Homo sapiens: one gene and its partner. The protein of the gene in region 1 purifies or fractionates together with the protein of each later gene. This does not show direct contact. Each region holds a gene or a part of one and is shown on either strand. Other genes may lie near its edges. The genes, in order: SBNO1 and ARL6.

The links.
Region 2: the proteins of SBNO1 (region 1) and ARL6 purify together in Homo sapiens (affinity purification with mass spectrometry; one large-scale study listed by BioGRID and IntAct). This does not show direct contact.

Annotation. Positions count from the first base shown.
Region 1 is NC_000012.12:123,323,123-123,326,948, reverse strand, and holds part of SBNO1 (protein strawberry notch homolog 1), read left to right. Parts: intron 1-614; coding exon 615-797; intron 798-1,349; coding exon 1,350-1,447; intron 1,448-3,117; coding exon 3,118-3,269; intron 3,270-3,826. UniProt on the Homo sapiens protein: Plays a crucial role in the regulation of neural stem cells (NSCs) proliferation. Enhances the phosphorylation of GSK3B through the PI3K-Akt signaling pathway, thereby upregulating the Wnt/beta-catenin signaling pathway and promoting the proliferation of NSCs.
Region 2 is NC_000003.12:97,767,723-97,771,548, reverse strand, and holds part of ARL6 (ADP-ribosylation factor-like protein 6), read right to left. Parts: intron 3,469-3,826; 5' UTR 3,442-3,468; coding exon 3,319-3,441; intron 1-3,318. UniProt on the Homo sapiens protein: Involved in membrane protein trafficking at the base of the ciliary organelle. Mediates recruitment onto plasma membrane of the BBSome complex which would constitute a coat complex required for sorting of specific membrane proteins to the primary cilia.

The DNA of each region.
Region 1 (3,826 bases):
TTTTTTGTTTTTGTTTTTAATTGAAGCAGGGTCTTACTCTGTCACCCAGACTGGAGTACAGTGGTGTGATCTTGGCTTACTGCAACCTCTACCTCCCAGGTTCAAGGAGTCCTCCAGACTCTGCCTCCTGAGTATCAGGGACTGCAGGCGCATGTCAATGTGCCTGGCTGATTTTTGTATTTTTTGGTAGAGATGAGGTTTTACAGTGTTGCCCAGCCTGATCTGGAACTCCTGGGCTCAAGCAATCCACCTGCCTCAGCCTCCCAAAGTGCTGGGATTACAGGCATCAGCCACTGCGCCTGGCCTAACCAATGTTCTTATATTTCAGATTGTCCATGTTTTCATTTTGTTAAGGTAATTCATAAGTTATAGCCATTTATTTCAGTTGCATAGTTCTTAAAATCACATTATTTTCTAAAATGACTGCATTAGGTAATAAGAAACTTGAGACAACTGTGTGAGTATCCTGAGAAATAGATTCCCAAGTTACTAAAGATGATTTATTAAATTAATATTAAATGGTCTTGCACTTAACATTGTTTTGATTTAATTGGTATTTTTAAATAACTAGACTCAAAGATGAAGTGTCTGAAATGTTGATTATGTATCTTCAGTGGGTCATCGCCAGAGAGCGGTTTCAGCAAGCTGCAGATCTGATTGATGCTGAGCAACGAATGAAGAAGTCCATGTGGGGTCAGTTCTGGTCTGCTCACCAGAGGTTCTTCAAATACTTATGCATAGCATCCAAAGTTAAAAGGGTTGTGCAACTAGCTCGAGAGGAAATCAAGAATGGAAAAGTAAGTAGAAGAACTCATTAAGAGATTGTTTGGGGGTTATGTTGTTTAGTCTTTGTGGGTGCTGAGGTTTTCTGCTTGTAAAATCTGGTTTTCCTAAAGGATAGTAAAACTTCTAAAAAATACATTTCTTAAAATTATAAAAGCAATGCCTGCTTAGAGAATTTAGAGAGTTCAGAAAAGTATAACAAAGTAAACATCACTATAATTGGTCATCCATAGCTGGTAGCACTGGTAACATATGGATGTGTATTGCGTTAAGGTTTTTTCTTTTCGGTGAATATTTATCTACTTAAAGCATAAGATACTATAAACTGTACAAGGGCAGGGGCTTCACTCATGCTTACTACTGTCTGTAATCCTATCTCCTGCCTAAATTTTTGACAAATAACCTGTCTCAAATATGTAGAAGAAATAAGTAAAACAAATTTGTGTTTTATAATAATGAGGACATTCTTGTTTGAAATCTTTGTTTAGCTAAATGTTTAAAATATGTCTTGGTAAGAAGCCACAAACATTATTATTCATAATTAACATGTTTTCTTTTTTCTCCAGTGTGTTGTAATTGGTCTGCAGTCTACAGGAGAAGCTAGAACATTAGAAGCTTTGGAAGAGGGCGGGGGAGAATTGAATGATTTTGTTTCAACTGCCAAGTAATGTTTTTGTTCTTTTAATGTTTTTGTTTCTTTTTGAGTTCTTCCTTACCTTAGTTCCAATGTGGGCATTTCCTGGAGACAAAACTTTTGTTTCACCTGCATCATCTTTAAGTTTTCTTGATCTGAGTTTTCTGCTTTTCTGTAACAGTGTATCTATTGGAAAACAATAACAGAAATCTCATAATCCTAAAATGTTAAGCATTTTGCTAATATTACACAGAGTATGTGAACTAACAGAAGGGCTAGACTTTGTTTATCTTGTACATCTTGGAAATCTGTGACAGCTTGGCTTAGATTCAGTTTTAGTGTACTGTATTTGAAATTACCGTTATCCACAGGAACAGTAACTATAGTTTGTCCTAATATAACGAAGTCTACTTTATAAGTTGGCTGAGCATGGTGGCTCACAGCTGTAATCTCAGCACTTTGGGAGGCCAACATGGGCACATCACTTGAGGTCAGTAGTTTGAGACCAGCCTGGCCAAAATGGTGAAACCCCATCTCAACTAAAAATAAAAAAAATTAGTTGGGCATGGTGGCACACGTCCTGTAGTCCCACCTACCTGGGAGGCTGAGGCAGGAGAATCCATTGAACCCGTGAGGTGGAGGTTGCAGTGAGCCAAGATCGCACCACTCCACTCCACTCCCCTCTGGGCGGCAGAGTGAGACCCTGTCTCAAAAAAAAATAAAATAAAATAAAGTCTACTTTAAAAGTTGAAAATAAGCATGAGATCTTCAGAAATAGATTTTAAAATGTTTTAGGCATTGTTTTTAGTTTGCCTAACCTCCACATTCAAACTCTGGTAGTAAACTGAGCAAAATAAACTTGCTGCTCTACTATTTTGTGCCTCGGGATGCATTCAGATGCTCCTTTCAAAAGCAATACATGGGGCTCACGCCTGTAATCCAGGCACTTTGGGAGGCTGAGTCTGGTGGATCACGAGAGCTCAGGAGTTTGAGACCAGCCTGGCCAACACGGTGAAACCTCGTCTCTACTAAAAATACAAAAACTAGCCAGGCGTGGTGGCGGGCACCTGTAATCCCAGCTACTGGAGAGGCTGAGGCAGGAGAATTGCTTGAACCCAGGCGGCGGAGGTTGCAGTGAGCTGAGATGGCACCATTGCACTCCAGCCTGGGTGACAGAGAGACTCGGTCTCAAAAAAAAAAAAAAAAAGAAAAAAGCAAGACATACACCTGCTAATCTATATTTTTCTGTACATAATTGCCTAGAACTACCGTGTCCAGAATGGCAGCCGCTTGTCACATGTGGCTATTGAGCAGTTGAAATGACTGGTCCATATTGAGATGTTATTATATGTGTACTGAGCCAGGTTTCAAAGACTCCTTAAGAGAAAATAACATAAAACATATGTGTTGACATGGTATATTGAGTTAAAATGTATTATTAAAATTAGTTCCACCAGTTTTATTTATTTTTTACTTTTTTAATTTAAGCTACCAGAAAATACAATAATTGTGTATGTGGTTTGGCTTGCATTCTTATTATTTAGTTGGACAGCTTTGGGCTAGAAAATTAAAATTTATTTGAGCTCGTTTATCAGTATTTTGTAAAACTGAACAAAGTATATTTCAATATATTTAATAATACTTTACATATAATTATTTTGTCAACTGAAGCAGTAATTGTCACTGTTTCTCTCCTACAGAGGTGTGTTGCAGTCACTCATTGAAAAACATTTTCCTGCTCCAGACAGGAAAAAACTTTATAGTTTACTAGGAATCGATTTGACAGCTCCAAGTAACAACAGTTCGCCAAGAGATAGTCCTTGTAAAGAAAATAAAATAAAGAAGCGGAAAGGTGAGCACTTTAAAAAAGAAAAAATAGGCCAGGTGCGGTGGCTCACACCTGTAATCCCAGCACTTTGGGAGGCTGAGGTGGGCAGATCACGAGGTCAGGAGATCGAGACCATCCTGGCTAACACGGTGAAACCCCATCTCTACTGAAAATACAAAAAATTAGCCGGGCATCGTGGTGGGCACCTATAGTCCCAGCTACTCGGGAGGCTGAGGCAGGAGAATGTCGTGAACCCAGGAGGCAGAGCTTGCAGTGAGCCGAGATAGCGCTGCTGCACTCCAGCCTGGATGACAGAGCGAGACTCTGTCTCAAAAAAGAAAAAGAAAAAAGAAAATAGTTGACGTTGAAAATACTGTTGAAATTAAAACATAAGCATTTTAAAGTGGCTATATTTTGGGAATGAACTGCCTTCCATGAATTCACAAATGGTTCCAAATTTTCACTGTCACTTGTACAATTTTGAATGCACAAGTTATCCCCGTTTTAAATTAGGAATTGAGCAATTCACTGGTGGTTGGCAGTGTGTTAAGCACTTGGCTATATACATTCTACCATATAAC
Region 2 (3,826 bases), on another chromosome or scaffold:
AAAACAATACTAGAAGTTCCAGCCAGAGCAATTAGGCAAGAAAAATGAAGGTCATCAGTATTGGAAAGAAATAACTCAAATTATCCTTGTTTGCAGATGACATGTTCTTATATTTAGAAAAACCTGAAGACTCTACCAAAAATACTGTTAGAACTGATAAAGAGATTCAGTTAAGTTTCAGGATACAAAAGTCCACATATAAAAATCAGTAGCATTTATATACACCAAGAACAAACAATCTGAAAATGAAATCAAGAAAGTAATCCCATATATAATAGCTATAAAAAATATAAAATACTTAAGAATAAATCCAACCAAAGATCTCTACAATTAAAACTATAAAATATTGATAAAAGAAATTGAAGAGGACACAAAAACATGAAAAGCTATTCTATCTATGCTCATGGATTAAAAGAATTATCACAGTTAAAATATCTATACCACCCGAAGAGATTAACAGAGTCAATGCAATCCCTATCAAAATACCAATAACATTCACAGAAATATAAAAAGAATCCTAAAATTTATATGAAACCATAAAAGACCCCAAATAGCCAAAATAATCCTGAACAAAAAGTACAAAGTTGGAGGTACCACACTATCTGACTTCAAACTATACTACAAAGCCATGATAACCAAAACAGCATAGTTTTGGCATAAACACACACACACAGACCAACAGAAGAGAACAGAGAAGCCAGAAATAAATCCATGTATTTACATCCAACTCATTTTCCAAAAAGACATCCAAGAACATACATTGGGAAAAGGATAGTCTTATGATGCTGGAACACTGGATAAACACATGTAGAAGACTGAAACTAGACCCCTATCTCCCACCATATACAAAAGTCAACTAAAAATGGATTAAAGACTTAAATCTAAGACCCAAAACTATCAAAGTACTAGGAGAAAACACAGGGAAAATGCTTCAGGACACTGATTTGGGCAGTAAGACCTCAGAAGCACATGTAACAAAAGCAAAAATAGACAAATTGGACTATATCAAGCTACAAAGCTTCTACACAGCAAAGGAAACAATCAACAAAGTGAAGAGATAATCTACAGAATTACAGAAAATATTTACATAATATCCACTCAACAAAGGATTAATAACCAGAATACAGAAGGAACTCAATTCAGTAGCAAGGAAAAACAAAACACAAAAAATCTGACTAAAAAAATGGGTAAAAGATCTGAATAGACATTTCTCAAAAGAATATAGACAAATGGCCAACAGGCATATGAAAAAAATGCTCATCATTATTCATCAGGAAAATATATATCAAACTACAATGAGATATTATTTCACCCCAGTTAAAATTGCCTTTATCAAAAAAGGCAAAAAAATAATGAATGCTGGTGAAGATGTAGAAAAGGGGGAACTCTCGTAGATTGTTGGTGGGAATGCAAATTAGTGTAGCCACTATGGAAAACAGTATAGTGTTTCCGCATGAAACTAAAAATAGAACTCCCATAAGATCCAGCAATCCCACTGTGGGAATATATCCAAAAAAATGGAAATCAATGTATCAAAGAGATACCTGCACTCCCAAGTTTATAGCACCACTATTCACAATAGCCAAGATATGGAATACACTTTTGTCCATCAATGGATGTATGGATAATGAAAATTTGGTACATATACACAATGAAATATTATTCAGCCATAAAAAAGACTGAAATCCTGTCATTTGCAGCAATATGGAGAGAACTGAAGGTCATTAAGTTAAGTGAAATAAGCCAGGTCCAGAAAGACAAGTATCACATGTTCTCACTTGTTTGTGGGATCTGAAAAAGTAGATCTCATAGAGACATAGAGTAGGTGGTTACCAGAGGCTGGGAAGGGTAGGGCGGAGAGAGGGGTGGAGAGAGGTTCATTAATAGGTATAAAAATACAGTTAGATAAAGGAATAAGACTTAGTGTTTGATAATTCAGTAGAGTGACTATAGTCAACAATAATTTACTGGATATTTCAAAATAGCCAGAAAAGAAGAATTAGAATGTTCTGAACATACAAAAAAGATAAATTTTTGAGGTGATGGATATCCCAGTGACTCTGATTTATTATGCATTGTATGCATGTATCAAACTATCACATGTAACCCCTAAATTTGTATCAATAAAAAATGATATAAAAACTGGATGATGTGACAATAAAGATTGGTAGTGGAATAAAGATTGAAATTTTTGAAAAAGGTATATAGAGTCTATCTCTAAAAAAATGACAGCTAAGACTAGATTCTTGAAAAAAGCGATCAGATTAAAATGTCCTCCCTCTCTCCCTATTCTAAAATGCCAGCAACCTCAGTACATTAACAATAAATAAACATAAAGATAGCTTAATATGAAAAACTAGTTTGTGTCCAGGAAAGAACTACTTACCTAGAAACTGATTTTATCCACAAAAATGAGACAATTTTACTATAAAATGAGATGGGCACTATTTTTTTGCAAGGCATTTCCTATCACAGCATTGTACATTTCTGTACTTATTTTATTTAATTCCTTAAAAATAATGTTCTAGTAGTGGATGTAAGCTTACAAGAGACTCTTCTTGAGCTTGGTGTAGGAAGGGAGCAAGTGTTGTATCTACATCTATAACTGAGTGACAGAGGTTTGAAACCCCTCAAGAAGTCCCATTTCAAGTGGCTCCTTGGCTGTTACCATTACCATAAAAAAAAGAAAAAAAAGCAAAGCCAATCACTTTTCTCTGGACCTGGAGGTCAGTTTTTCTGATAAGGCAGGAGAGTTGTCCAAACATAAAGGCTCAGGAATTGGTGCCAGAAATTAGGAAAGCCCTATTAGATAGGCTTTCTTTATATGCAGCAGACTTTAACTTTAACTTATACATCACATGTTAAATGTGCTAGCTTTATATATTTTTCAGTTATTACAATATGTCCATACACTTGTTGCTTAAAATCATCTTGCTTACTATTACTAATATGCATACTATACTTTCAAAAATTGTCTAATTATCCATAGAACCTATAAAAATGTTTCACCTTTCTCTGTTTTGCTCCTCCTGTAAGGAGGAAACTAAAAAGAAGGCAATGACATTTAAAGTAAACTCAGTAAATCTGTGAAGAACTTTTGAAAGAAAAGACATTTGAAAATAATATTCCAGTTTAATAATTAAAATTTACTGTGTAAAATATACTGCAAATTATGGCTGAGGATACTTAAAGGTACTGAAAGGTTAACAGAATATCTTAATGTGATTATATGCGGTTTTAACGTCATATAACATAATTCTGCACATTAATTTTCTTTAGTAGCAGAAAATACATAAAGCATCTAACAAAGATACTTACATTTGAAGGTTTAAGTTTGTTAATGATCGTCGTTTTGCCACTATTATCTAGCCCAAGGCACAAAACATGAACCTCCTTCTTCTTCAGGCCAAGCAAGACTGAAAGTCTGTCTAGCAATCCCATAATGTGATTCAAATATTTACAAACCAGCTGCAATTAAGAAAAAATAAAATATTACCCAAAGGCACCTTAAGTTATGGAAAATATTGGTAGGTGTATTAAAAAAAGGTAATAATTTAAATACACATAATAATAGTGTGAAAACTATGTCAATGTAGCTTTGCACTTAGTAAACACAGTGTAAGCTGATTACCAGAAAGGAGCCTTAACTGACACGCAGATTTGCAGCTTATAACAGGTGGCAACACAGAACAATGCCTTGGAAATAACAACATTTCTCTCTGTAATTTATCATATTTAAGAATAAAACATGGTCAGCCTCAGTATCATTTGGAGTCTGCGAATTGTGATACTTGAAAATATGGAAGAATTAGGCCGTAGCCTTTCC